5 separate regions of the Homo sapiens genome follow, and all the other regions are linked to region 1. Evidence: fine-mapped expression QTL. A gene starts in region 1. Each other region holds a variant in brackets. All regions are shown on one strand. Distances are from middle to middle. Region 1 holds the start of DLEU1 (deleted in lymphocytic leukemia 1). Region 2 overlaps DLEU1 (deleted in lymphocytic leukemia 1). Region 3 has its middle 130 kb from the start of DLEU7-AS1. Region 4 overlaps DLEU2 (deleted in lymphocytic leukemia 2). Region 5 has its middle 76 kb from the start of DLEU1-AS1.

Region 1 (6,151 bases):
TCAAAAGACCGTTTTTTACAATCGGGCTCTCTGTTCAGGCATAGGAACTACTGTATGTTAGTTGATTTTGTTTTCTCCCATTTTAGCAAATCAAGAAGCTTTCATGAAAGATTTTTTCTTAAATAAGACTTTAAACACAATTAGACTTAAATCTTCTAAAAGTGACTTACACATAAACTTTAGTCTCTGCAAAATAGAGATAATTGCACCCACTTAATGAGTTACATGATGATTCGATGGAAAAATGCATGTACATGCTTAGCCCAGTGTCTGACACATATTAGGTCTTCAATAAATGTTATCATTTATCATCATCACTTTAGAATTCTCTTGACATATTATATCTAAAAGGGGACTAAGATAAAAAATTCTACAGTGAGGAAACCAGATTGTGCTACTTACCTATTTGTAAGTTCTAGTACAATTTTACACATGTCTCCCAAATATACCACTTATCCAGACCCCCCCTAGCTGATTGTCCCCACAGGTACATTATATTTTTAAAGTACAAACAATATGTGGTTATCCCTGAATGCTAGAAATTTGGATGATTTTTACTTTATATATATTTTAGATGGGCCTCGGTTTTTTAACCTTAACAATCAGAAAAAGCAATAAATCTATTCCATTTCCAGGTATTATTCTTATGAGATGGTAAAATAAATTAACATCCTTATTTGCCTAACAGGGATCATTATTCATATTTGGGAAAAATCATTTGTCAGTTTGATTTATCATTTTAAGGAGCTCTTGAATAAGAATGCTAACCCCGCCCAGCGCGGTGGCTCACGCCTATAATCCCAGCACTTTGGGAGGCAAAGGCAGACAGATCACGAGGTCAGGAGTTGGAGACCAGCCTGACCAACATGGTGAAACCCCGTCTCTACTAAAAATACAAAAATTAGCCGGGCGTGGTGGCGCGCACCTGTAATCCCAGCTACATGGGAGGCTGAGGCAGGAGAACTGCTTGAACCCGGGAGGCAGAGGTTGCAGTGATCCAACCAGCCTGGGCAACAGAGTGAGGCTCCCTCTCAGAAAAAAAAAGAAAAAAAATGCTGACCCCTAAAGGCACTAACTGTAGTTTGATTTTTGAACAACCATTAAAGAAGCCAGTTTAAAAGATCAATGACTGACTGACAATAACAAACATTTACTAATATGCCAAGCACTGTTGAAATTCCTTTAATATGTTAGCTCATTTACATCCTTACAACAGTCCAATGAGGTATTAATAGTACTTGTTTTACAAAAGGTCCAACAGATAATTTACCCAACAAGGCACAGCTAGTAAGTAGTGGAGCTGGGATTCACCCAGGCAGCTCGGTTCCAGAGTCGACCCACTTAAGTAGTGCAAAAAAGTACCAGAGATTAAGTAGTGTATTTATACTACTCTGCCACGTTACTTCTTGCTGATCTCAAATTGCTAAAATCCATTTCTTTTCCAAGACACTTAAATAATGCAAACCATGCTACCCTTCTCCCACTTCCTTATTAGTACTTCAGGCACTTTCATATCTACTCTCTTATTTAACATTCACAATGAAGGTTTTAAAATATTTACAACTTTATAGGGCTCCACGCGGTGGCTCACGCCTGTAATCCCAACACTTTGGGAGGCCGAGGCGGGCGGATCGCGAGGTCAAGAGATCGAGACCCTTCTGGCCAACATGGTGAAACCCCGTCTCTATTAAAAGTACAAAAATTAGCTGGGCGTGGTGGCACTTGCCTGTAGTCCCAGCTACTCGGGAGGCTGAGGCAGGAGAATTGCTTGAACCCGGGAGGCGGAGGCTGCAGTGAGCCGAGATCGCGCCACTGCACTCCAGCCTGGCGACAGAGCGAGGCTCCGTCTCAAAAAAAAAAAAAAATTACAACTTTATTATCGTTAATTGTCCTATCAGAGTGCCCATTTTTTTTGAAGGTAGACAGGTTTGCCTAGATATGGTGCTTCTACTTACCAGTTCTAAGACTTTGGGGCAGATTTCTTAATCTGAACCTCAGGTGTCCTCATCTGTAAAGTGAAGATAATACCTACTTCATAAGGCTGTTGTGAGCAATAAACACGATTAATTCGTAAATCATTTATTTAGCACAGTGCCCAGCACACAGTACACAGTCAATACGTGGTAGCTGTCAGTATACCAACGTGTTGCACAACAGAAACTCGTCTTTGCTGGATTCAGTTCACTTATCACGCCATTAAAAAAAAAAATCATCCTAAGTGACACAGAAAAACTGCCCATTCCTATCTCAAAAAGTTTATGAACAAGTTAAGACGGTAAGAGAAACTGAATTCAATGAAAGCGCCTTCGCAACAGGCAGCTTAGGACCGGGAAGAAGGGCTTCAGCAAACTTAATCATTAACTCTAGGCAGGCGCGCGCGCACACACACACACACCGTTGAAGAAGGAGACCACGCCTCCTGTGTGGGCTCAGGTTGAATCGTACAGCGTGGTAGAGAACTCCAGGGCTGCTGAATCTGACAGATGTGGATTCATCCACTTCTGTGCCACCTGTGCTGTCTTGGGCAAATTACTTAACGTCTCTGAGCCTAGGTTTCCTGGTCTTCAAAACGAGAACAGTAATAGTTCCTACCTGGTAAAGTTGTTCCGAGGCTTAAGTGCGATAACCCCTGTAAAGCGCTGGAGAACGGCAAAAGCTCTACAAGCCGGCAGGGCGGTTTTAAATGCACGTGTATCCATATACAAGGTCTCATTGATACATTCCGTTGTTTGGAGTTTAGACACTGGCTGTAAGACGTTTTTCTTTTCTCCTAAGCAGGACCCGTATTTGTTTACCTCCAACGTAGACTAAATGCCTGTGGGCTGGTAGCTATAAGACGACCCCTCGGCCCCACAACCTCTAAGTTCACTTCACCTCCGCGGCTTTGCAAAAGCGCTACACGCACGCGCAAGAAGCAAGAGGACTGCAACCGAAGAAGCAAAGGGAGAGCCGTGCACCACGATGATTCTGCGCATGTGCCTGGCGGGAGGAGGGGGGAGGGTTGGAGTTTGCGCATGCGTAAAAATGTCGGGAAAGCAAGAGAAGGGGGGTTAAGAGGCGGTATTGACAGCTGTGGAGGCAGCCCGCGTTCCCGGCATTCCCTGGGGCGGCGGGGTTGGCTCTAACGAATTTGAATGAGGAGCCTCAGCGCTTTCGGCGCCATTTTCGAGTGATGCCTGATCTCATCAATCTAGCGGGAGAGACAGGATAACCTGTCCGAGAGTATAGCGCCACTATGACTCCGCCGGAAAAATTACTTTAAAAATCGCCAAAAATTACTTGGAGCAAAGGGCAGTCGGCGGAGCTTCGCCAAGGCTGGCGCAGTCGGTAAGAGCCTGAAGAAGTAGCAGAGCGGGACTCGGGAGGTGGCAGTGGTGGGACCCGCAGGCAGTGGTGGGTGCAGGGAGTGGGCGCGGGGTCTACTCTCACTTAATCGCGAAAAATCCGAGGAAGTAGGGTTAGGGGCAACTTGGGCGTCTGCGAGTGGGCGGCGGCGGGCGGAATGTGGCGGGAGCGCGGAGAGACGGGGCTGTGGGGGGAGGGGAGCTGCAGTTTGAGCGGGACGCGGACCGGCTGCGGCGGAGCAGCCGCCGCCCAGCGGATCTGTCAGCAAGACCCCCCGCCCGGGACCGGAGCCGGGGACGGCGCACTGCGGGGTCTCTGCAGGCGGCCGCTCCTTGACAGGAGGACTGGACGCGCGCCCCTCCCCCATTTCCGAACCGGGCCGCCTTTTCTCGCCGTTTTCTCGACCCGGTGATGGCCGTCATCTCGTGACAAGAAACTTAAGGTCGACAGAAAATTCAGGACCCGGAGTCATGGGTCCCTCCGGTGGGTCGTGGCAACAGTCCCCCCCGCCACCGCCCGGCACCCATCTATCTATATTGTCTTTTGACGCTGAAGCGTGAGGTGCCCCAGGAAAGAGTTTCCCAAGCCCTGGCTGCCCTCCCCCGGCGCGCTGGGTCCCGGTGAGGTCTCTAGGTAGGTAGGACTGGCCGCGGCTCGCGCTTCCAAGATGGGGCAGGGGCAGGCTTTTGAGGTTGTAGCGGGCTCTTAGGAAAGATGCTGGACTTTAGCTTCTTTCTGGGGATTTTTGTCATTTGCTCTCGCAGCGTTGTCCTTTCTCAAAGGGGAGGAGTGTTCACGGGTGAGATGAAAGATGGGGCTTCGAGCTAACGATTTCCTTCTCGTGGCTATTTCCTCCGAGTCGCACTTTCTTAGAAGACTTTTTTCTTCTCCGGTGTTTGAAACATGTCGCAAGGAAAAAAGCAATCTGTGAAACTATTAATGTTTTCCTCCCCCAAAAGTCTTTACCCGGACAACTTAACGGTAATTTTGCGATCCCCACCTTTTCTTGACGCTGAGGAGGAGGGACGAGAGTTGTTATTTGTCTTTCCCTTCGGTGATTTTTTTTTTCCCCCTTAGCTGGTGGTTTCTATCAATTCTTACTCCACAGCTCTTGAGTGATGTGAGCCAGTGACGGCATTAACTTTAGGTAATACTTCTATGGCCTTTGTAAAAATCCCGCGTTAAGGATGTATTAGATCTTGAGTTCTTTTCCGCGCTGGAGGCACCACTAGATTAACCCTTTGCCGGTGTATTGCGTGTGGGGCGCACGGCTCTGGGTTGCAAATATTCCGGAGATGCTTTCTGCAGCAGCTATTCTGTTCAGTTGTTCGCAAAGAGGAATAACGCTTCCTGGGAACCGCGGTGACACGCTTCTTTAGGACTGCCTGCCTACAGAGTTTTTCCCCGTGGAATTGATGTAACGATTGATTTATTTCTTATATTCTATGAAGACTGGGGGACCCGCCCTCGCTTAGAATGTTTCCCGGAGGAGAATAGAAGAGTGCAATGTGATGTTTTTCAAATTGTGTCTAACGGAGCTCCCTAAACTCTGGACTTGTTACCCCCTGATTGGCTGGAAGGAAGCGGGCCTGGGGGGTTTGAATGTTGAACGCTAAACTATAATTCTCGACTTTACGAAAAAATATACTTTTAGCCAGAGAACCACGGAAATAGCTACGAAACGTTAGGACGAGAGTTTAGAAAAAAAGTTGGTTTTTAATAGTTTTTTTTCCTCTCAGAAAGGATTTTCGTGTGGTTCTCAAATGTATATTAAAAGTAAAACTGAAGAGGCTGTTTTCGCAAAATTATGTTTCTGCTGGTTGAAATTAACAAGACTTTTATATATTTGTCACTGTTCTTTATTGGTTAAAAACTGAGTGAAAAATTTAGTTTTTTTCCTTTGATAGGAATTTTTCACCTTAAACTACATATATTTGTTGGATGCAGATTACCGGACAGTTGTTTCTTTTATTTTGATGCAAAGAAACTAATTTTCTTAAGGTTCACGAATGATCTTTTTAACATTTTCCATAAAAATTGAACATCTTATTTAAAAAACTTTTCGCATCTAGTGAAAATATACATTTTGCTAATTCAGTAACTGCAGTGAACTAAAACTTTAATTTACAAAACATTTATGTTTCTTAATTTAGACAACAGGTAAGCACAGGTGCGTATCTATTATTTAGTTCCTTTGATAAATTCATTATGAAGAAATATATTGTATACAACAGTGTGGGTGTGCTGTTTTTTATCTGGTTGATTTTCAGTTGATTTTTGTTCGATGTTGCCTGAGACAGCCTCAGTATATTTCCATTTATTACCGAGCTTGTCATTCCATTTAATTGCATCTTGATAAAAGGCAGGTGTCGTTTTCAAAGAACAGCGGCAAACTAACTGATAAACAGCTGTAGATGCTTTGAGAAACAATTGTTTTAATTTAATAGACGTTTATATTCTTTTATGAATAGTAGTTAAATTTTGAAGCTTATAGTGTGTATGTTCGCATTAAGTCAAATACGCATTGTTAAAAAATATTCAAATAAAAAATCTTATGGCTTTTATAAATCTCTGTAGGGCTGTAAATATAATTTACATTAGTAAGTGGAATAGCTGAGTTTATAATTCATACTATTTTGTACTGCCCTCATAACAAGAATTGTGATAACAGATCCCTTTTCATTACCTTTGTTCAAAGCTATTTATTTTGGGTCATCTTATGAAAATTTCATAGAAGGTGCTAATTATCTTCTCTATAAAATTTGATTTAATGAAATTTTAGGAGATCTCATTTCTATTTTAAACG
Region 2 (6,151 bases), 72 kb before region 1:
ATGAATGAGTGAATTGTTGGATAGACTAAGTATCTTCAATAAATGCAGAAAATGCCAGTGTAGAACCATATTACACTTTCTTCAAAAATGCTATTCTACTCTGCTTGTTAATTATCTCCTTAAGATAATTTCACTTTTTTAAATGTTTTAAGGCATTTGTTTTACTAGCAATGAATTAAATGTTAGTTAAGAATCTGCACGTCTAATCCATTTAGATATAGCATGTATTTTCTTCCTAGTTCATACATCTCATAAAATGCAAAAAAAAAGTATAATCCTGCTAGCATAAGTCATTAGCAGACAAAGATAAAAACTCATGAGCTCTGTGTTTTATTTTATCTCACATTCTGCTTCATAGTCCAACCAAGTTTCATAATGAAAATTTTTCTCAGCCGACGCCTCAAATGCTTTATTCTTCAAATACAATTGATTTGACCAATATCGCTGTGGTTTGGAAATGTTTTTCTTCCTGTTGGTCTCTGCCATGATCTCCTCTGGATATAGTTCAATTAGATGCCTTCTCACTTTTTCACAAGTTGCCTGTTATTGTAAAAGTTTGGGAAAACTTTGAAAAAGAACTATAAAACGTTTTCACTGTCAATAGAAAAAAATGGATTGCTTGAGCCAGACACAGCTCCCCATAGAGCTAACCTTTTGATCCTGGAATCCTTTCATGCGCTTAAGTCTTCACTAGCGTCAATGGGAGTGTTGTGTATGCAAGGGCAGCAGGATCAAGTTCAGTCTCTTCTTTAGTACTCTGTAGCCAAGTGGGGTAGCCAGCTGAATCTGGTTTAGTTAAAAAAAAAAAAAAAAAAAAAAAAACACAACACTTTCCTGATGCTTTGAAGTTTTTTGGGCAGTGTAATAATATCAGGATTTGTAGGACGTTATTTTGCATAATCCTTAATAAGATATTCTTATGGCTTCAAAAAGTTAGTGGGTTAAGAGAAGCAAGAACCTCCAGCACTCATAGGAAATATTTTTTTAAGTTCTGGGTAGAAATGGCTCAAAATGCATCTCGGGAAGATACATAATTATAAGACTGTCCAAATGTGTGTTCAGGCAGGAATGCACCTAAAACTATTCTTCATAGATGGATTTCTACTCTATCTTTAAAAGATAGAGATATAATATAATAATCTCTCAAAAGCTCTGATGAAAACAAAGAAGCTTGCTGGAGGATTCTACTATGTGTGTGGATTAAGTAACTCTGTGACTAATCCAACTATTTGAATCAAAACAAGGCATTCCTTTAGAATCTTTATCACTCTAACCTCACACTCACTCACTGATGAGGACTTTTTTCCAGGCAAGGTCAAAGGGCTGACCAAGGTGATTCTGCACCACCAAATAGAAAGGAGGCTGGAGAAGGGAGAAGTGCAGCGGCAGGATACAGAAGCCACAAAATCTCTCTGCTGGAAGCCAGTTCACCTTATTATTACCAAGAAACTGAGGTTCACTTTCTGGCATTTTGGCCTGAGCATTAAAATTTTAAATTAACACCATTGAACACAACCTACTCTTTTTTTTAATGAGCATTTTATTGTCACTTTGTGGAAGGGTACTGAAACCTCTGATTTAGTATAATCATATGATTATGATTTATTCATATTGGGAATTCAGCAGCATGGGCAACAACAACTCGGGTCTGGGGGGAAAAAAAACAGCCTCACTAAATAAGGGATGGTCCCACCACTAAATATGGGGTTAGGAGTGAGTTTCTCTTTGGTTAAATACACATGCACACATATTTCAGTAGCACGACAAAGCGAAAACAAACAGAATAAAGGTGAACATTGTACTTGGTAGTTGGAAATGAAGTGTGTCATTTTAATATATATGAATAACTGATTTTTCCCCACTTTTTGGAATCCAGATGTTGGTAATCTTTGCCTCAGAATGACGATTGCCTTTTTAAGAAATCTCTTAAAACTTTAGTAGTGGTCCTCACACAAAAAGACACTGGGTCTGGGCACGGTGGCTCATGCCTGTAATCCCAGCAATTAGGGAGGTTGAGGCAGGCAGATTACCTGAGGTCAGGATTTCGAGACCAGCCTTGCCAACATGGTGAAATTCTGTCTCTACTAAAAATACAAAAAAAAAAAAAAAAAAAATTAGCCAGGTGTGGTGGCGCATGCCTGTTATCCCAGCTACTCGGGAGGCTGAGGCAGGAGAATCGCTTGGACCTGGGAGGTGGAGGTTGCAGTGAGCTGAGATCGTACCACTGCACTCCTGCCTGGGTGACAGAGTGAGACTTCATCTCCAAACAAAAAAAAAAAGACACCGACCTAGAGGTAAAAATATTCAAATTCCCTACGTTGCTACCTCTGACAAATGAGAACTACGGGTCCACACAAGTTCACTTATCAGTATACCCACCTAAAAGATGCATCTTTCCCTGTTTGGGGGCATATGATAGAATTATAAAAGTAAATGACTTCATTAAGATAAAATAGGTCTCTGGTGTTTCAAGACAAAACCACTGGACAAAGAACAGACAATGCATAAAAGAAATACCTAATGGCCAATAAATATACAAAGAGATGCTCAGCCTTGCTTGTAATGTAAATAATGCAAGGAAAACCAGTACAGCAATTTTTCTATCAGGATGGCAAACTCTAAAAGACTGACAGCAATGTAGGCATGCAGGGGAATGTGCGGAAACAAACACCTTTGTGTATTGCTGATGATAATGTAAATTTGTATGACTTGAGCATAAACTCAGCCAACTCAGCAAGTTTATCACTATCAAATTGTTAAATGTTTCCACCTTTTGACCCAACTTTTAAGGTTTCCTTAAACAGATAATTGTACATGTGAACAAAGAAGATGCAAAAACATATTAATTGCCATGTGATTTATAATAGTGAAAAACAGAAAATAAATTATGTCCACTAATAGAAGATTGGTTAAATAAATTATTGCTCATTCATTCAACCATTGGTTGAGGGCCTACTGAGTGCCAGATAGTATTCTATATACAATATATATAATGCATCCATTAAAATAATGATGTAGATCTATAGTGATTAGTATGGAAAAGGTTACAAAAGTTTGTATTGTATTTTTTCATTTTGTAAGAGTATGTATATATTTACTTATATATATTTATATGTGAATATATATGCATTGAGAATCATCTGTAAAGATGACCACCAATATGTTATATTACCCATGGTTATCTCTAGGATTGTTGTTGTTAGTATTGATCTTTATGAGAGTCATCTGTAAGGATGATCACCAATATGTTATACTACTAGTGGTTATCTCTGGGACTGTTGTTATTATTGATCTTT[A/G]TATTTTTCAATACTGCTTGAATATTTTTACAATAAAGCTATATAATCTTCATACTCTAAAAATATTAGGAAAATTTTTGAAGGAAAAAAGAAACCTTTTGGTCAATTTAATCTTATTAATATGCAGGAGAAAATACCACACAGCCACAGAATTCCAGAAATCCAGCTGCAGTTCTAAGAAGTAAGACGCAAAAGCAGATGCTTGCCCACAGGATGAGGTAAACAGGGACGAAGCACAACGGTTCCATAGAGCTGAAATGCACAATGCAGCTGAATGTACTCTACTAAACTCGAAATCCAGGCCAGCAAAGTCTCCGAAGACTGCAAAGGCTAAAAACTAATAACAATAAACATATCATACACAGGGCTTTTATATAACTTGGAGGTCATTTGCATTGAAACATTGGTCCTTTAACAGTCTATAATGTTCCTAACTCTACATATTATTCCTCTTCCTTTAAAAAATAATTTTCCATGCACCCTCCCCATCCTCTTAATCCTACAAGACAGTTTTCAGTCTGAGCAGGTGGGGAATGCATATCCCAGTTTAAAGGCTAAAATACACTTGGCTTTACCTGATTTATGTTTATCTTAGCCAGAGTATCAAGTGCATATCAATAGCACTATCGTAATGCACATATATTTCCTTATTCTGCCATAATAAGTAGAATCAACAGGATGTGCATTGTAAAGGTAGATAGAGAAACCATAACACAGAGTGATATACCAGACAGAACTCATGCTAGAAATTCTCCCATGAATCTGAATACATGAATAGCTGGCTCAATATGAGCAACAACACAGAAACCTACAATCATATCCGATCTTTTTTCTGCTAGGAATGAACATTCACAGATTTCTCATGTTAAATGCTTGCAGCAATTTCTTAAAAGCCAGGACTTCCACTGTGAGAGGTGTACTACATATTCAACTTTGAATTTTTTAAGTTTTTGTTATGCTGTTATTTAATCTTACTGGGTTACATTACATTTTTCTACCTTGTACTATGTATGCACATAAAACAGCTGCTTTCTGAAATCCATATAAACTTCTGCTCCAGGTCTTTAAGATGGAATCAAATCCCAGCAGTAAGCAAACACCTTGCTTTTCACGGTTTTTACGATAAAAATTGAAAACGAAACTTGAAGACATTTGGTTCAGTCAAACGGAACAAACAAAGCAAGTACTATAGTCTGGTGTCTTTTATTAGGCCAACTTTGAGTTCTGAACACTCAGCTCTCTTGACTACACAGGAGTCTTAAGAACACGTGTTCATATGCACATGTATCTAACTTTACCATGGACTCATAAAATGCATCAAACATTCTACTTTTGTTACTTTCAAAAAACTGTTTTAAGGAATCAGGATAACCAGCCAGGGGATTTTTAAAAACTGAGAAAAATCTTCCGTGGCATATGACCTTTCTGATTAGAGAAAGGGCATATACAGAGGGTTGGCCAAGCTTCAGGTGGCCATTGTTAGTGAAGCCAAAAGACTTCAGTTAACTGTGTTACCTGTGCCAGAAGCACCAGGCTCCCTCTGGTTTCTCCAACTTACTCCCCATTTGTTATATTCTTTAGGCAAAAACTCCAACCTGAAGTACTCTGCTAGTGTTCGTAAAAACAAATTAGGCTGTATAGATCTGAGTGTCTTGCAAAAGCAAAGAAAATTTAGGAAGTCCCAAAAATATCAGACTGACCTATGTATTTTTCGGACATTCACCAAGTTAGTGAGAATAGGTCTGGTTACCCCTATTGGGCAAGGAAATGGTAACAGTTCAGGTTTCTGGGATTTACATTAATAGTTCAAAGTTAGACAGTGGAGTGGGAGACAGAGTGCAAGTCCTCTCCTTGCCTGCCAAAGCACGTCCTCACTGTGGTTGCTTCTTTAAGAATCTTTGTGAATGAAGCATTAAATGAAATGATTAAAAGAGAAAGAATACACCATGTTCATTATTCTGACGCTGCACAGTAAAAGTTACTTTCATTTTCTTTAATCACATTTTTGTAGAATGGTATCAGAAGTTTAAAACAGTCTAATCTCAAACTTCTTAAATAGTTGAAAGAAAAATCTCTAGGATAACAACTGAAGTAGTATAATCTTTTCTTATAACTGTTCAGGAATAAAAGGTTTATGTTTGCTTGTGTGTGTGTGTGTGTGTGTGTGTGTGTGTGTTCATAATCAGTGATTCATACTGAATCAATACCTTTTGTGGTTTTATTGAAATAATATGTTTGAAGTAATCAAGAAAATTTTTAACCTCGATTCAAATTTCAATACTTAAAGCTTAGTAAATTATTTATAACTTCTGTGCATTCAAAGGGAACAACCAAAAGATGAAAAGATAACCTATGGAATGGGAGAATTCACAAATCATATATCTGATAAGGGGTTAATATCCAGAATATCTAAGAAACTTGTGTTTTTACAACAACAACAAAAAAAACACCTGATTTAAAAATGTACAAAAGACTTGAATAGACATTTCTCCAAAAAAGATACACAAATGACCAACAAGCACAGGAAAAGATACTCAGCATCACTAATCATAAGAGAAATGCAAATCAAAACCACAATAAGATATCACTTCACACTCATTAAGATGGTCACTATCAAAAGAACAGAAAATAACAAGTATTAGTGAGGATGGGGAGAAATTGGAATCTTTGTGCACTGTTGGTGGGAATGTAAAATGGTGCAGTCATTATGAAAAACTGTATGGAGTTCCCTCAAAAAGATTAAAAATAGAACTACCATATAATCCACAAAGATATTACGCAAAGCAAAGCAAGCCAGTCTCAAAGGACAAATATTGTATTATTCCACTCAAATGAAGTATATAAAGTAGTTAAAA
Region 3 (6,151 bases), 590 kb before region 1:
CCAGCCTTTGCCTCCACCAAATGAGAGTCCACTCAGCAACATGCCTGCTAGATAAGGCTCTGCTCGGACACATCCAGAGTCAGGAAACTCACTACCTTCAGGGGAAATCTGTCCCATTGTCTTACAGCTCTTGCTGATTAAAAGAAAAGAAAGAAAACACCTGTGCAACTTCTTGTAACAACTTCTTTGCTTTTCCTGCTGATACTTTGAAGAATATGCCTAATTTTTCTTTCAAATATTTGGAGTCCCTTATTAGATGCCCTCAATCTTCTCTCATGTCAAACTCTCAGGCCTTTCCACCAACCCTTTTATGACAGGTTTTGAGACCTTTCTCAAGGCTTCTAGATGTTACAATCACAGCATGTAGGTCCCCACCTTTCCTTTTCCCCACAAACCAACACACAAGCTGGGCTTCTGTTGCCCATAACTGGCTTGGAGTTGCAAAGACAAGGATGTCTCCCAGGGCAGCCTGAGAAGTGGTCTCTGAAGAGGTGAATAAACTGGGGTCCCTTCCTCCATCCTCAGCATAGTGGGAACACTGGGGGAGGAGGCCGAAGTTCTTGGCTTCCTGTCATTATAATTATAGCAAACACAGGGCACAGATCTCCTCCTCTCTGAAGAAGGGCTGTAGGCCCCTCATACAAGAGTCCCAAAGGGAACAGACTTTGTCTCTAAGTCTTGGATTCCGGCCTTTCAGCAAAGAAAAAGGAACTGAATAAAGAAGTCCAGTGACTGCTTTCCCACCCAGGGCTCTGTGGCAAGCATTAATGTTTTGGGCTAGCAAAGCTCTGAGTCTGCACACAGCCCATTCCTGGGTGGCCTCTGCAGCTTGCAAACGTGTTCGCCTTTGTCTTGGGACAGGATGGTGGCTGGGAGGTGCAGGTCTACAGTCACACCATAAGTGGGCCAAGTCCTTGTTCCTGACACTGATAGTTACTAGAGGCTTGGAAGGATGGAGTAGGGCGGTGGGAGGGTGGCAGGCAGGTGATGAGATATTGGTTAGTGGGTACTATGTACAGTTAAATAGAAACAGTAAGTTCTCATGTTTGATAGTATAGAAGGGTGACTATAGATAACAGTAATATATATTTCAAAATAACTAGAAGTGAGGACTTAAAATGTTCTCAACACATTGAAATGATAAATGCTCGAGGTGATGGATATCCTAAATGTCCTGACTTGATAATTACATACTCTATGCATATAACAAAATATCACATGTAGCCCCAAAATATGTAAAAATATTATGTATCAATAAAAAAGAAAAAAATGTAACAGGGCCACCCCCTGTCACCTTGCTCCTTGACACTGAAACTTCTGGGTTGAGAACAGAGGGGCCTCCTCTCCAGAGGAGATACTCCTCTCTGAGTATCAGAATTGCTTGGGGAGATGTTGAAAATATTCTTCCCTTGAGGCAAAAGGGAGTGGGTTTGCACGGAGACGCTCTATGCTCTCTATGTGTTATTGTAGTTGGGGGCAGGTGGAAGCTGTCAAATCTCCAAGCTGATCTTGCCTTGTTGAGAACCACTGGTTCAGAGGGTACAGTGAGCCAAGTCTAAACTCAGGTGTCTCTCCTGTATGTCAAGGCATGCAATAAAAGCATCATTGTCACCACAGCTAGAATAATTTGCAGTGGGACCTCCAAAACACCTGGAAGCAAAGAAGTGAAGGCTGCTGGGACTGTCTCTTAGGACAACGTGAGCCTTTTCTGGACATTTTCATGATCCTCTGGGTCACCTTCATTCCTACACTGGGAACATGGCTGCCAAAGTGTTGTAGGTGTCCGATTCCACAGCTCTTCTGCCAGAGCAGGACTCAGGTTTTCTCTCCAGCAACGGTTACATCTAAGGCTTCCCCAAACTCATTCCCTTGACTTGGGGTCTCATAAGCTCCTCCTTATCCCAAGCAGAGAAGCATGAGCTGAAGTTGAAGGGTGACAGAGACTTATGCTCTATGACACATACTGGGAACCACCTGCCCTGTGTCCATTCCTCACTAACAAAATTCAGTTTTTGTTTAGTGTTATAGCAAGGGGTAGCCATGCCAAAAGGTTCTGATTAATGAGATATAAGTTGAGAGTTTCTGGGAAAGCTTTTGCTTTCCTAATACAAATGCTGCCATTTCCTATTTTGCATTCCATTTCTTCCCTCTGCTTTGGAAAGATCATGTGTTGTCTGGTGGGGCAGCAGCCATTTTGCAGTCATGAGGCAAAAACTTACTTAAGTATGATGAAATGAAAAAACTGAAACAAAAAAAAAAAAACTGGGCCTCTGATGGCATCGTTGTAGAGCCCTAGACTGCCTAATCTGAAACTTCTAGTTGTGTTAAATTTCTATTCTCTGTTTAAACTACTGTAGTCAAGGGCCCGTGGTGGCTCATGCCTGTAATCCCAGCAGTTTGGGAGGTCGAGGCTGGAGGATTGCTTGAGGCCAGGATTTGAAATCAGTATGGGTAACACAGTGAGACTACATCTCTACATAAAAGTTAGCCAGGTGTGGTGGTGCATGCCTGTAGCCCCAGCAACTTTGGAGGCTGAGGTGGGGGCAGGAATCACAGGAGCCTCAGGAATCAAGGCTGCAATGAGCTATGATTGCACTCTAGCTTAGGTAACAGAGTGAGATACTGTCTCCAAAAAAAGAAAAAAGAAAAACTGTGGTCAGGGTTTTTATTTTTGTTTAGTCATTTCAATCATTCATCTGTTAAAAATTGTTTATTAAGTACTTACTTTGTGTTAGGCACTGTCCTGGACAAAATGTAAGCTTCCTACTCTCATAGAGCTTATATTTTTATAGGGAAGAAAAATAAAACAATAAGTCAAATATATAGCATATCAG[A/C]TAATCCTAAATGCTAATAACAAATGAAGCAGAAAACAGTTATAGAAAGAATATGTGGAAGAGCGAGAGTGGAGAGCAGGTTACTATTTTAGGCCATGTGGTCAAGAAAGGCTTCACTGAGAAAGTAACATTTGAATCCAGACCGAAAGGAGATGATGAGGGAGCCAGCCTTGCAGGTGTCTGGGGGAAGAACATTCCAAGAAAGAGAACAGCAACTGCAAAGGCCCCGAGGCAACAGGTTACCTTGTACGTTTAAGGAACAGTGAAGAGGCCAGAAAAGAGTTAAGAGAGGCCAGGGGTAGGGGAGGGGATTAAGGCGAGGCACAGAAAAAACAAGGGGCCGCAGTGTGGAGAATCTTGCAGATCATCGTAAGGATTTTTGCTTCTAAAGTGGGGAAGCTCTTGGAGAGTTTGAACAGAGGACTGACTTGATCTGATACACACTTCAGCAGGATCGCTCTCGGTACCCTGTTGAGAATAAACTCAAGAGGAATGGGAAGGTTGGGGGCAGAGTAAGGAGATCCATTTTGAGGCTATTGAACCAATCCATGGAGAAAGGATGGCAGCTTGGATGGAGTGGGGCAGTGAAGTGGAGAGGAGTAGTGGGATTCTCAGTTTGACATCAACGTAAAGCCCAAGACTGTGCTGATGAAGCAAACGTGAAGGGTGTGACAGAAGAGCCCAGGAGGGCTCCCGAGGCCTTCACTGGAGCTATCGGAAGAGGGAACTGCCATTGACTGAATCAGAGAGAACTAGGAGAGGAGCAGGCTTGAAGGGATTGGGCACTCAGCGCCGTCCTAACTGGGTGTGCACAGACACATGATGAGTCTACAGGATGTGTCTTGGTCTCCCTGGACCCGAGTGTCTTCTCTGCCTCCTTCCCAGTGCAACCTCCTCTTCCCTGTTCCTGTCTCTGGTGTTGATCAGCAAGCCTGGAACTCCTGAAAGTGCTGAAATCAATACTCTGTTCTGTCCCTTATGTTTAACTTAATAAGGCCAGAAAATGGGCCAAATGAATATTTTAGAAATGTTTTGAATTAAAAGAGTGGGAAAGCTTCTGTTTGTTCAAGATTTCCCAATGAGCTCATGTTTCATAAATTTTAAAAAATCAGTACAAGGACTCCTTGGTTTTTCATGGGAAAGAGCTGGCCCCTGAGGAGTGGTCAGCCACAAGCTGGGCGTTGATGATGACCCTTTCATGTGCACTGCCCTTCACAGCTATTAAGCATCCTGTTGTGCTTTCATTTGTCACTATTTGATTTTCAACTAAATCTCATAAAGTTCCTCTCATTTGTGAATAAGGAAACTGAGGCTTGAAATGTTCAGGCCACTTACAGTCTATCTGATTAGAAATCAACAGGGGCAGAATTTTAATTCTAATATTTGGACTCCAAATGTGCTTCCTTATTTTCTATTATATGCTCTACCCCATGCAACATGAATTAGCTTGGATTTATGAAGCAGCAATGAGACCTTAAGAGGGAACATTATGCAACTCTTTGTGTGTGTGTGGGGGGGTGCCTTTGCTTGTGTCAACTGTGCCTCAAGGCCACAGTTACCCTATGACCCAGCCAGCAATTGTGACTCACTTGTTTCAAAGGAATGTGGATTGATTTGAGATTTTGAAAAGATAGATTAAAAATTTGACCTAAAGTATCTCCTTCATAAAGGGGCCACTGTGCTAAATAATAGGAAGATTCACCAAACTCTTGGTGAAGAATTGTGGCTTGAAGCCCTCTTCTTCATCTGCTGGGTTTCCTTCCATTTCCATTTGACTGACACAGAACAAATTCTCCCTTCTCTCCTTCTGCCCTCCTTAAAGCAGTGGGATACAGGGGAATTTATTCTAGATCATCTTTGAAGGACTTTCATTTTACTTGTTAATTTTGGCCCTAACCCCAAACACCTTAATAGCACTTCTTTTGTCTCTTCTCACAGTCTCTTTATAAAAAATAGAAGACAGAGAGGAAGAAGTTGGCAAAGTGTGAAAAGGAAAGGGAATAAGATTCTCACCTTTGTCCCCACCTAATCCTGTAAGATCACCTCCTTCCACAGATTGCCTGGTTTACTCTTTCTTTTTCTTAATTCCCAGAGATCTTTGGTCCCACCTTTTGGTCAAAGTCCGTATGTAGCCTCAGGAAGCATCCTGCCCTATGGGTGCTTATAAACCCATGGGTGTATTGGAAATGACGAGAAGCTGGGAGATATGAGCTTTTCACCAAGGGTATGACGGTGCCCGAGCCTGCCAGGCGTTTTTGTCAAGGGAGTTTTACTCAAAATGTACTACAAATATTTCAAAAACAATGAGGGATAGAAATAACAAAAGGCAGATGTTGGCTTGTTTTGTGAGAAATGGAATTAGAAAATGAGATGTTCATGAACCCTGCAAATGTAATTTGATACAGAAATATTAAATGTTGGCTTTCAGCCCTCTTGCTGCCCAAGAAACTCCCTGGAATTGGGTTAGGAGCCATGCAATACAACATACTGCACCATCCAATCCATTTCAGGACACTAGAGAGAGTGAATTAACATTTCTCCAAATTTGCTCCAAAATAGTCACAACTCCATGAATCCCAGGCAACAGGAACAATGTTGAAGGTGATGTCAGTGTAACCATTGTTTTGAATGTTATCTTAAGGTGGATCACTCCTGTAGGAAAAGGTCCAGGCTTCCTTTTAACTCTCTCTAATATTTTCCCTCTGGGCAGGGTAATGTAGTGGTGTGTATGCTGGACATGGGGTCAGAAAACATAGGGGGCTCCTTCCTGCCAGCTGTGGACCTGGAGCCTTTGTGGGCAGTGTTTCTGGGCCTCTCGTGTCTTTATTTGTAAAATATGGGAAATGATCATTAAAAATTCATCTCCCGCAACTCTATGGCTCTCACTCTTCATTGGCCATTGTATCTACATTTATTTACCTTGCTCAGATTTTTCCTCTCCTCTATGAAAAGGAAAGACAAAAGAAAACAAAAGTAAAACCCTGTAATGATTCAGTTTTGAATTGAGCATCTCACAGTAAGCACTTGGATTTTCAGAACATTTCTATTAAGAATAACTGGAAAACTCAAGATGTCATCATGGTTGTCTTTGTTTGGGTTGCGATAAAGCAGAGGTCCCCAATTCCTGCCACTCACCTCCTGCTGTATGGCCCAGTTCCAAAAAGGCCACAACTGACCAGTCAGTCCATGGTCTGTTAGGAACAGGGTCACACAGCAGGAGGTGACTGGTGGGCCAGCGAGCAAAGCTTCAGGTGTATTTACAGCTGCTCCCCATTGCTCGCATTACTGCCTGAGCTCCGCCTCCTGTGAGATCAGGA
Region 4 (6,151 bases), 20 kb before region 1:
CTGGAGTGAAGTGGCGTGATCTCAGCTCACTGCAACCTCTGCCCCCCTGGGCTCAAGTGATTCTCCTGCCTCAGTCTCCCAAGTAGCTGGGATTACAGGCGCCTGCCACCACGCCCGGCTAATTTTTGTACTTTTAGTAGAGATGGGGTTTCGCTATGTTGAGACTGGTCTCAAACTCCTGACCTCAGGTGATCCACCTGTCTCAGTCTCCCAAAGTGCTGGGATTACAGGCGTGAGTCACTGCGCCCAGCCAGCAAATCTTATGTAGAATTTTTAAGGAGTGGTGAATTTGGATTGCCAGAGAGAAAAGATAACCATTCATTCATTCATCAAAGATTTATTGAGTGCTTACTGTGTGCCAGGCACTGTTCTAAAGACACAGCAGCAAACAAAACTGTTATAGAACAGGATAAGGCAGGTCATCTCCCAGATACGACACTTTGATAGGAACACAAAATACAAATAGGAGAGTAGAAAGAGATGAAATACAAAGAGAAAGAGCTGATATTGGGCTTATATTAATATTGAAAGGCCTTACATGCTAGATATTCTAAATGGGAGAAACATGCTGGAAAGATACTTGGCATGAATGAACTTATGTCCCTATGTTCAGAACAGACTGCTTTCCCTTCTCTGTTGGTTGGCTCTTCTAGCCTCCTAGGAACTTTTATAATCACCAGTATGATCCAATATAAATACTGCACATATGAAGGTTCCCAGTTGAGGAGTTTGGAAGCAAAAAGGGAAAGAATGGCTGGCAAAGGCTTCAATCTTCTGTCTCCTTTTATCTTCCCAATGGCTAGTAGAAAATACTATCATCAATCTCTTCCTTGCAACAATCTCCCATTTGATATTTGTCTGCATTGTGACTCAATTCCTGAAGGTTCTGTTCTTCATTCCTTTCTGGTAGAATCACTGAAAAGAAAGGAGATTACATTTACATTTGCTTTCTAGTCAATCAGGTTTTTCTTATTCGCCCAGCAACACTTCTCTACAGAGAGTTTGATGAAAAGTATTTTATGTTTTATATAGGCTAGTGGAGACATGGGTATGGCAGGATGGGAGGGTAGGGAAAATATCAAGAGGCTATAGTCTTGATATATAGTACTCTTGATATAGTACAAGCTTGATATTTAATAGCTTGAATTAAATGGGCAATTTTAAAAATGAAAAGAAACATATCTGCAGTGCCTTACAAAGAAGTAACTATAAGAAGTAACAAGTTTAGTGATCATTTACCTATAGGGAAGAAATAAAATAAGGAAATGAACCTAAGATTGTAAACTTAAAGGTCCAAAAACTTGTGTTGTCACCAACAACAGCCAAGAAATTTGGAAGAAATACCTTGAAGGAAAAAAATAATGTCAGATCTAAGTGGGATATTACTAGAAGACAGAGGAGAAGCTTTCTTGATAAGCTATCTGGCCTGTTGATGTACATATGAAAGTCATCATCATACAGAAATTGAGTCCAGGCGCAGTGGCTCATGCCTGTAATCCCAGCACTTTGGGAGGTCTTGAGCTCAGGAGTTCGAGACCAGCCTGGGCAACATGGCAAGACCCCATCAATACAAAAAATTTTAAAAAGTTAGCCAGGCATGGTGACACACCCTTGTAGTCCCAGCTACTCTGGAGGCTTAGGCGGGAGGATCACCTGAGCCCAGGAGTTGGAGGTTGAAGTAAGCCTGCACTCCAGCCTAGGCAACACAACAAGACCCTGTTTCGTTAAAATAAATAAATAAAAGAAAGAAAAATTGATTGACATTCTATGGACTAATGAGGGAATGGAATGAAGATCAAATGGTTGTATATGAACTTTGATTGCAAGATAAGCTACCAATTACTGACAAAAAAAATTGAGTAACATACTGCATGATTCCACATATATCAGTTCTAGAAAATGCAAACTGGTCTCTAGTGACAGAAAACAGGCCAGTGGTTTCCTGGGGAGAGAGGTAAGAGGAGGCAAGGATTATAAAGAGGCAAGGGGAACTCTTAGGAATGATGGCTATCATCAGTTGTATTTCTTCCTTTCTAACTTGAATGCGATTTATTTCTTTTTCTTGCCTGATTGCCCTGGACAGAACCTCTGATGTTGAATGAAAGTGGTCAGAGCAGATATCTTTGTATTATTCTTTATCTTACGGGGAAAGGGAAAGCATGCAGTTTTTCATCATTATGCATAAGGCTATCTGTAGGATTTTTATAGATGTCCTTTATCTGGTTGAGAAAGTACCCTTCTATTCCTAGTTTGCTAACAGGTTTGGTTTTTTTTTTGTTTTTTTTGTTTTTTTTGTTTTTGGTTTTTTAAAATCAGGAACAAATATACGATTTTGTCAGATTTTTTGGGTGTCTATTGAAATGATCAGATTTTCTTTTTTAGCTTAATATAGTGACTTACAATGATTAATTTTTTAATTTAAAGCAATGACATATTTTTGGGATAAACCTCATCCAGTAATATTAACTTTCTTATATTTTGTTGGATTTGACTTGTTAAAGTTTCGTTGAGAATTATTACATCCATGTTCAAGAGGGAAACTGGGCTATAGTTTTCTTTTCTTGTAATGGCTTTGTGTGGTTTAGGTATCAGGGTAATGCTGGCCCCCAAAAATAAACTGAGACGTATTCCTTCCTCTTCAGTTTTCTGGAAGATTTGTATATAATTGGTATACACAGTGTTATCCCTAAGTGTCTGGAAGAATCCACTAGTGTTTCTTTGTGAGAATATTTTTAACTATTAATTTTTTAAAAATAGATACATAGCTTTGGAAGTTATCTATTTCTTTTTCTTTTTTTTTTCTTTTTTTTCTTTTTTTTTTCTTTTTTTTCTTTTTTTTTTTTTTTTTGAGACAGGGTCTCACTCTTTCACCCAGGCTGGAATGCAGTGGCATAATCAGGGCTCAATCTCGCAAGCTCAAGCGATCCTCCCGCCTTAGCCCCCCAAGTAGCTGGGACTACAGTCATGCACCACCACACCCAGCTAAATTTTTTTGTATTTTTAGTAGAGATGGGGTTTCTTCACATTGCCCAGGCTGGTCTCGAACTCCTGGACTTAAGTGATCTGCCCACCTCAAACTCCCAAAATGCTGGGATTACAGGTGTGAGCCACTGCACCTGGCTGTACTTCTTTTTGAGTAAGCTTTGGTAGTTATGTCTTTCAAGGAATTTGACCATTTCATCTAAGTTGTTGAATTTTATTTGCTTAAGGTTTTTCATAATATTCC[C/A]TTGCTATTCTTTAAGTATCTGTAGAATTTGTCATATTTCACCTCTCATTCCTGATATTGGTAATATGTGTCTTCTCTCTTTTTTTTTTTTTTTTCCTGATCAGCGTGGCAAAAGATTTATCAATTTTATTTATCTCAAAGAACCAGGGTTTGGTTTCATTAATACTCTCAATTTATTTTGTTTTCCATTTCATTTATTTCTACTTTGATCTTTATTATTTCTTTTGTTTCTTTGTGTTTAATTTGTTCTTCTTTTCTAATTTCTTAAGGTGGAAGCTCATTAACTTGAGACTTTTTATATTTTCTAATATAAGCATTTTGCTTATGTCTTCCTACATACTGCTTTAGTGGCATGCCACAAAATTTGATATGCTTTGTTTTCATTTTCATTCAGCTCAAAATGCCTTCTAATTTTACTGCACTCCTATTTTAATCAATGGGTTATTAGAAGGTTATTTAGTAGCATGTTATTTTGTTTCCAAACATTTGGGGATTTTCCAGACAGCTTTCTGTTATTGATTTCTAATTTTAATTCTACTGTAGTCAGAAGACATACTCTGCATTATCTGAATCCTTTAAAATTTACTGAGACATGTTTTATGGCCTAGAACAGGGGCAGGCAAACTTCTCTAAAGGGTCAGACAGTAAATATTTTAAACTCTGTGGGCCACATATGATCTTTGTCACATATTTTCTTTTCTTCTTAAAGAAATCTTTCAAAATGTAAAAACCATTTTTAGTTCATGGACTATACAAAAACAGACTACATTTGGCCTCAGGGCCATAGTTTGATAACCTCTGGCCTAGAATATGATCGATTTGGGTAAATGTTTCATGTATACTTTGAAGAGAATATATATTCTATTACAGGTTGAGTATCCCTTATCCAAAATGCTTGGGACCAGAAGTGTTTCAGATTTCAAAGTTTTTTGGATTTTCTGAACATTTATATATATATATATAATAAGAGATCCTGGGAATAGGACCCAACGTATTGGGTCATGTTGGTGCTCAAAAAATTTTGGATTTTGGAGCATTTTGTATTTCAGATTAGGGATGCTCAACCTGTACTGTTAATTTGGTTACAGTGTTGCTTGAGTTTACTATATCCTTGTAAGTTTCTACTTGTTTTAGCAATCATTTAAAGAGGGGTATTGAAATCTCTAACTATGGATTTGTCTGTTTTTCCTTGCACTTCTGTCAGTTTTTGATTTACATATTTTGAAGCTTTTATTATTTGAGACAAAACCATGTAGGATTATTGTATCCTTCTGATTAACCAGCCCTTTTATTATTATAAAATGGCCTTCTTTATTCCTGGTAATATTATTTGCTCTGAAATCTACTTTATTTCATGTTAATATAGCCACACCAGTTTTCTTTTGACTAATGCCAGCATCAGTATGATATATCTTTTTCCATCCTTTTACCTTTTTTTTTTTTTTTTTTTTTTTTTGAGACAGAGTCTCACTCTGTCTCAAAGTGACTGTACTTTGAGTCACTCCAGGCTGGAGTACAGTGGCGTGATCACCACTCCCTATAGCCTTGACTTCCTGGGTTCAAGCTATCCTCCCACCTCAGCCTCCCAAGTAGCTGGGACTACAGGTGTGCACCACCACACTTGGCTAATTTTTTGTGGAGACAGGATCTCACCATATTGCCCAGGCTGGTCTCAGACTCATGGGCTCAAGTGATCCTCTTGCCTCAACCTCCCAAAGTGCTGGGATTACAGGCATGAGCCACTGTGCCTGGTCATCCTTTTATTCTTAATGTTATTATGTCTTTGTGTGTAAAATGTGTTTCTTTTTCTTTTTTTTTTTTTTTTTTTTGAGACGGAATCTCGTTTTGTCTCCCAGGCTGGAGTGCAGTGGCATGATCTCTGCTCACTGCAACCTCTGCCTCCTGCATTCGTCCAATTCTTCTGCCTCAGCCTCCCAAGTAGCTGGGATTACAGGCACCCATCACCATGCCTGGCTAATTTTTGTATTTTTAGTAGGGACGAGATTTCGCCATGTTGGCCAGGCTGGTCTTGAACTCCTGACTTCCGGTGATCTACCTGCCTTGACCTCCCAAAGTGCTGGGAGCCATCACACCCAGCCTAAAATGTGTTTTTTTATTGAGAGTATATAGTTGGATCTTGTTTTTTATTTTCCTTTCCCCCACCATCCAAAATTTTTTGTTTCGTTTTGTTTTGTTCTAAGACAGGGTCTCACTCTGTCGCCCAGGGTGGAGTGCAGTGGCACGATCATGGCTCACTGGAGCCTTGACTTCCTGGGCTCAAGCGATCCTCTTGCCTCAGCCTCCCAAGTAGCTGGGACTACAGGCATGTACCACCACACCCAACTAATTTTTTTTTTTAATTTTTTATAGAGATGGAGTTTCACTTGTTGCCCAGGCTGGTCTTGAACTCCTAGGCTCAAGTGATCTGCCCTCCTTGGCCTCCCAAAGTGCTGGGATTACAGGGATGAGCCACTGCGCCCAGGCCAAAATCTTTTTAATAAGATAGAGGATCCAGGGTTAGTTTTTGTAGCCTTGGCTGGCCCATCAGCCTCTGATGTGCTTGAATTTCTGGTCCCTGGAGTGGACACAGGGCTTAGTGTGGCTATGCTGGGTTCCCAGGGCCTTGCTGAAATGCCAGTACACTTCTTGGCCCTTGTGAGGCCCAGAGAGCAGGATGGTGCCACAGCCTTTGAGGGTGTCCAGGGTCAGCTGGTCAAAGGTGAGAATCTTGTCCCCAGCCTTGGGGATTTGGCTGCAGGCCCAACTGCTCATGTGCAGTGCACACACCTTCAGTTTGGGCACCTCCTGAACATGGTCCCCACAACCACAGCTGTTTTGTTTTCCTGGCCAGGAAGCTTCATCTTCCAGATCATCCAGGAAAGAGACAGAGATGGCCATTTGGTGCAACTCATAAATAACCTCTTC
Region 5 (6,151 bases), 520 kb before region 1:
AGAATACTTTCTATAAATATAAAGGTCTATATCCAGCCAGGCGTGGTGGCTCACACCTGTAATCCCAGCACTTTGGGAGGCCAAGGTGGACGGATCATGATGTCAGGAGTTCAAGACCATCCTGGCCAACATAGTGAAACCCTGTCTCTACTAAAAATACAAAATTTAGCTGGGCATGGTGACATGTGTCTGTAATCCCAGCTATTCAGGAGGCTGAGGTAGGAGAATCACTTGAACCAGGGAGCTGGAGGTTGCAGTGAGCCAAGATCATGCCATTGCACTCCAGCCTGGGCAACAGAGCAAGACTCCGTCTCAAAAAAAAAAAAAAAAAAGTCTATATCCAACAAGAAGGAAATGGATAATCTATCTGGTCTGGGAAGGGCCCGCATTGGCCCAAACCACTCATTGATAATCTTATGTTTCTTAGGAGACTCTGATTCTCTGGGTAAAAATGTGTTTAACTCGAGAACATGAGAATGCAGCTAAGACAGGCAATTCTTCATTAATTGGAGGCTAATTATGTACTTTCTCCATCATCTCAAGTCTGACTGTCCCCTTTCCCTCCCCTTCAAGCTGCTGGCAACCTTAACTCTACCATAGGATGGGGCCCAACTAGCCCCAGTGACCATGCTAAACAGCAGGTACAAGGGACCTGTATAGGCCTGAATCAGTCTTTGTGTGCTTGGGAAGTATAGACTCTCCTAAGGAATAGATTGGAAAATGACAAGGTAAGAAAGTCCTGGACTAAAGAACAAAGGATGCTTTGGAAAAACAGGATCAGGAGTGTCCTGAGAGAGGACATTCACCAAACAGTGAGGTACAATTATGCCAGAGAGAAGAGAGAAACCTCATCAACGTTCCCTTAACTTATGAGTGCATGAAGCATGGGTTTGATCCATGTTCTCCAATCCTATAGTCAGGCTCTGGGTGCAATTACTATGGGGAAGTCTAATAAATTTAAGTTTTTTTTTTGTTTTTTTTTAGATGGAGTCTTGCTGTGTTGCCAGGCTGGAGTGCAGTGGCGTAATCTCGGCTCACTGAAAGCTCCGCCTCCTGGGTTCAAGTGATTCTCATGCCTCATCCTCCTAAGTAGATGGGATTACAGGCATGCACCACCACACGCAGCTAATTTTTGTATTTTTAGTAGAGATGGGTTTCACCATGTTGGCCAGGATGGTCTTGATCTCCTGACCTCGTGATCTGCCCACCTTGGCCTCCCAAAGTGCCAGGATTACAGGCGTGACCCACAGCACCCAGCCTGGACGTTTGTTAAGTGCAAACTTTGTTAGGTAGTAAGAGGAGGAAATGAGAAGGCAGTCTGCCTGTCTTCATGGTAAAAAGTGCAAAACAACATGATCCAATCAGCATTTCCATGTGGGGCCCTCCCATCTCTCCTGGACCCCCAGCTTTGAGGGCTGCCCTCTCCAATCTCCCACCTGAATCTGCATCCAGTGAAGAGTAGCTCATGCTTCAGAGCTCTCCTTTTAATTTCCCCTGTTAAAACATCCAAAGCCCCTTTCTTCTGTAGTAGCTAGACTGAAAGAAAAATCTCATGAATTAATTCTCACTTACAGGCTGATAACTAAGAAGTAGTTACAAGTTTTGACAGATGACAAAACAGACCCGAAGAGTTTAAACTACTTGCTCGATTGCACATAATGGGCCAGAGGAGACTCCATGACCCTTATTACTTGTCCAGTGATTCTCCTATGTATCCTTAACATAAAGAACTCTATGAAACCAAGAATTTTCACCCAAAGGAATGAGTTGTTTCCTAAGGCAAATTTTCAGGCATTTAGTTTCACACATGAAAAAAATATTTTGGATCAATGGAATTTTGGGGCTTTTATTACACCACATAATTCTATCCTACCTATGTTTAGGACTACACTTGGCACCCCAAAATTCAAAGTTTGCTTTCAGGCACAAAATCCACATATCGGAAACTGAATGACTTAAAAGAGGGGAGCATGTGTTGGTGGAAAGCAGTAGAGAACTAGGAGTTGAGAAGCTTTGTTTGGGGGCCAACTCTATTAGCTCCCGACTATGTGACTTTAGGCAGGAAACCCAGGCAGAATTGCCTTGAGATGGAAAAGGGAGAGCTAGTGCAGATCACAACTGGCACAGAACATGGATTTCTCCAGTTACATCTTAATTTACACTCAACCAGATATGAGTGCCCATTGATGCATGGATGGGGCCAGCCCTGTGCCTGAGGAGGTGGAGGGGAGTTTGGATCATAATCCCAAAAGACATAATCCCTAACACCATCATCCTGAATGTCGAAATACCCAAAGATCAAAATCCCTAAACAGAAGATGGGAAAATGCAATATGGGATGCCCAAGTCGGTATATAACAAATCATAGAAGAATTTCAAAAAGAGCAGTGCCACAGAGAAAATGAATGTGAACATATTCTCCAAAGAACAGCCATATCCCTAAAGAAAGAAAGCAGCTACTCATCATGATGCAAGCCTTCAAAATGTAGTTAATCAGACTGTGTGTGGTGGCTCATGTCTGTAATCCCAGCACTTTGGGAGGCTAAGGTGGGAGGATCACTTGACGCCGGGAGTTTGAAACCAGCCTGGGCAACATAGTAAGACCCTGTCTCTACAAAAAATAAAAAACAAAAATTAACCAAGCATGGTGGCACATGCCTATAGTTCCAGCTACTCAGGAGGCTGAGGTGGGAGGATCACTTGAGCCCAGGAGTTCAAGGCTGCTGTGAGTCTTGATCATGCCACTGCACTCCAGCTGGGGTGACAGAGCAAGACTTAGTCTCAAAAACTAACAAACAAAAAAGGTAATGATCGCGAAAGCTGGCCAGCTGCTATGTACCATCTCCTTGAAATTGCCCATAATCTATCCCTGTAATATACTTTTTCATATGTCAAACTTTTAAAAATTTTTTTAGGGCTTTTTTGTTTTTTCTTTTTGCTTTTCCTTTGTTTAATTTTTTTTTGACTTTTTAAAATTATCGGCACTATGTTTTACAATTCACTGTGTAGCGTATTACATCTCTGCATAATTTCCAACAATAGAGGTAAAGATGTTTAGAGACTTTAGAGTTTTAATTTGTTTCATGCATATTTTGCAAATTCAACTTTACAAAAGTGCATTATCGCAATATTGACTTTGTATGTAAGACTTGTGTGGCATGTAAAAACATGCACAATGTTTTTACATTAATTATCTCCTCAGTAAATGAAGAGACATCCTTTTAGTACATCTGTGTTTGTGAAAGATAAAACGTCTCAAGATCTTGGCTCTTTGAGCGATTGCATATGCAGTGGTGACCATCTCAGCTTTTGATTTCAGATGAACTCAGTTATGAAGCTGGGTACACGCCATTACCAACCATAATGATATGCATTTACACATTTTGCTTTTTGACCTATTTCTTTATGAATATGGCTCATCTACTAGTAACTGTTATATCCATGCTGCTATTGTTAGTGTACCTGTGCTTATGCTGGCAAAAATATGTATGTTATTATTGC[G/A]TATCTTATTGTGCAAAGTGGCCTATGAAGTTTTCTGTGGTGTTTCTACGTGTTTCTCAAGTTAGTTCCCCTTTAAAGTGTGAATAAATATATTTTAAGGAATATTTTAATATTTTTTTCCAGAACGATATTTTTAAGATTTCGATATTTTTGGGATTTCAACATTTGAGATTACAATGTTGGAGATTGTGTCTTTTGGGATTGTGATTGGCTCTCAGTGGAGAGAAGTCCTGCAGCTCTTAGCACCTTCATAGAGGCATCTTACAATGCCACCCTCATCTTCAGGGAGTTTGTCCTCCCTCACCTTTTATATTTTGAGCCTTAAAGTCTCTGTTTTTGCAGAATATTTGAGTAGCTTGATCACCTGGTTAAAACCCTCTCCCAGGCCAGGTGCAGTGGCTCATACCTGTAATCCCAGGGCTTTGGGAGGCCTAGGTGGGTGGATCACTTGAGGTCAGGAATTCGAGACCAGCCCAGTCCTGACCAACATGATGAAACCCCGTCTCTACTTAAAATACAAAAATTAGCCGGGCGTGGTGGTGGGCTCCTGTAATCCCACCTACTCTGGAGGCTGAGGCAGGAGAATCGCTTGAACTCGGGAGGTGGAGGTTGCAGTGAGCAGAGATTGCACCACTGCCCTCCAGCCTGGGCGACAGAGTAAGACCTTGTCTCAATAAAACAAAACAAAACAAAAAATAAAACCCTCTCCTAGCAGGCCTGGACACCTTCAGACAAATACATGAAAATAGTCTGTGTCTATTCCTCTGGGAGGCATTGGTTTTTACTGATTCTTACACAGCTTCCATAGCCTCGTTTGACTGTCTTCCACCATTTTGGGTTGATAATATTTATGTACAATTTTATTCTTTTATAAAACTTACAACTTGCTAATGTTTATTTTTCCAATTTAAAAAAGTAACACATATTCACTTTGGAAAATTTGGAAAACAGAGAACAAAGAAAAATAATAGTTTCCTGTAATCCCACTCTCACAGAGCACCACTTTTAATGTTTTGGTGTTATTTCTTTTCAGTCTTTATTCTCTGGATATAATATATGTTTAACTTAGTTGGAATCAATTTTATATCCAACTTATTTTTTTCATTTGACATGTTGTCATACATAGATGTATGGATATTCATTAACACAATGTTCTTGATCACTCTAGGTCAATATCTAGACCTATTGTAGCAATTCTATTGCTGCAATATGCAAAGAGATGTTCAAATAATACCTTGAAAACAGCATAACCTCTCTAGCTCTCAGGCTCTTCATCAATAAAATATAAAATACACAATGTTGATCTACAGGGTCCCCAATAAAATTCTTTAAAAATAGGATATGAATTTGGAGGGACATCCTTTCTACCAGGACTCTGCCACAGGGACCCTAACCATAAGCACCAAGGACTTGCCTAAAGAGTCCAAGAACAAAGCTCTTTGGTCCATCGTAGATATAGACCCAGCTGACATAAGAAACCAAGACTGGCATAATTTTGTTCTTGGTGAGTAAAGCCTGAGACAAGTGAACTATTTTCACCATGGAAACTCCAACTCCTGCCATTTCAGATGCCATATATTACATCTTTCTGGGATACTAGTTTCATGTTGTCATGAAAGGACAGTCAGGATAGTGTAGCATAGCTTGGAGTTTTCCTCTAAAAGGCTCATTTCCATATTGTTAGCTGTTTGTTGTTGTTTGGCTGGTTTCAGCAAGTCCCCCTGATTGTTTTGACTGTCCTTGTTTCATTTGGTTCCTGACTTTCAGCTCTATTTACTTAGCATTATATCCTCTTTATTTAGGCCACCTCCTACCCTAACCTTGTTTTGTCTTTTTGTCTTATTCCAAAAAGGCTTCAGAATCCTGACAAAACAATCATCTCTCACCAGGCCCTTTGCTCTGTGTAAGGCTGGAAAACAACTTCTGAGCAATCTCCTTTTCCTCTTTAGTAACAATAGACCTTTTCTGATTTTATGCAGAACTTGGGAAAATGTTTAATTTCAGAAATGCCTCAAAAGGAGTGGAGGAAGTGAATTTGGGACTTAACTCTTTCTTCCAAGGCTTAGAATCTTCAAGTTGTACCTACAAACCCCTGGAAATAATTTTACCTGAAAGCACACCATTTCTCCAGTAGTATAGTTAAACGTGGTGTCACTTTTATAAAAGCGCCCCAATATGAATTTTCAGTATAATTACTCAGTTTCGCTTTTGTGTTCACTCTTTCCTAGCAGGTTGAGAACAGATGACTTGAAAGAAAATGGTAGATACATAAGAACATATCTAGTTTCCAGGGGTGGTACTGGACCTTGGTAGATCAGATGGGGCCAAAATCTTTCCTCCACTAAAAGTGCTCTTTGGAATTAAACCGTCTCACCAGAAGGCCTTATTACAAAGCACACATGCTTGTCAGCAATCTGGTGAACTACATTCCTTCACCTGGGAGGCACAGATAACCATATGGCAAAGGACGAGGATAGATAGTATTTCTACTAGGAAAGAGACACAAACTTGGGAGAAATAATACCATCTATCAAAATTGCTTTTATAACAGTAGTAATTTAATGGTACATTTTCTTAGCTCCAGTTTACTTTGATGTATTGAAGATATCAATAATCATTGCACAGATTGTTTTTAAGATTAAAGGAACAC

Evidence for each region. PIP is the estimated chance that this variant, and not a neighbour inherited with it, causes the effect. A credible set is the group of variants that fine-mapping cannot tell apart.
Region 2: its variant is the best candidate, but not a certain one, in a credible set for the expression of DLEU1 in whole blood (INTERVAL, PIP 0.90).
Region 3: its variant is the best candidate, but not a certain one, in a credible set for the expression of DLEU1 in tibial nerve (GTEx, PIP 0.62).
Region 4: its variant is the best candidate, but not a certain one, in a credible set for the expression of DLEU1 in whole blood (INTERVAL, PIP 0.77).
Region 5: its variant is the best candidate, but not a certain one, in a credible set for the expression of DLEU1 in tibial nerve (GTEx, PIP 0.82).

Annotation. Positions count from the first base shown.
Region 1 is chr13:50,078,999-50,085,149 of GRCh38, reverse strand. It overlaps DLEU1 (deleted in lymphocytic leukemia 1), which reads right to left and starts at 2,981. Exons shown (of 7, transcript NR_109974.1): 1 at 2,593-2,981; 2 at 1,956-2,008. The region is part of intron 1 of DLEU2 (deleted in lymphocytic leukemia 2); the gene reads left to right. RefSeq lists enhancers at 2,057-2,852, 4,470-4,529 and silencers at 3,010-3,059, 3,460-3,679, 3,543-3,837.
Region 2 is chr13:50,151,462-50,157,612 of GRCh38, reverse strand. All of the region lies in intron 2 of DLEU1 (deleted in lymphocytic leukemia 1), which reads right to left. Among named protein-coding and RNA genes, the nearest start is that of DLEU2, 29 kb to the right of the region's middle. RefSeq lists an enhancer at 4,546-4,595. The variant A/G (reference allele first, on the strand shown) is at 3,297.
Region 3 is chr13:50,670,416-50,676,566 of GRCh38, reverse strand. No RefSeq gene overlaps it. Among named protein-coding and RNA genes, the nearest start is that of DLEU7-AS1, 130 kb to the left of the region's middle. The variant A/C (reference allele first, on the strand shown) is at 2,835.
Region 4 is chr13:50,099,468-50,105,618 of GRCh38, reverse strand. The region is part of intron 1 of DLEU2 (deleted in lymphocytic leukemia 2); the gene reads left to right. The region is part of intron 2 of DLEU1 (deleted in lymphocytic leukemia 1); the gene reads right to left. It also overlaps the pseudogene RPL18P10. Among named protein-coding and RNA genes, the nearest start is that of DLEU1, 20 kb to the right of the region's middle. The variant C/A (reference allele first, on the strand shown) is at 3,227.
Region 5 is chr13:50,599,893-50,606,043 of GRCh38, reverse strand. No RefSeq gene overlaps it. Among named protein-coding and RNA genes, the nearest start is that of DLEU1-AS1, 76 kb to the right of the region's middle. The variant G/A (reference allele first, on the strand shown) is at 3,502.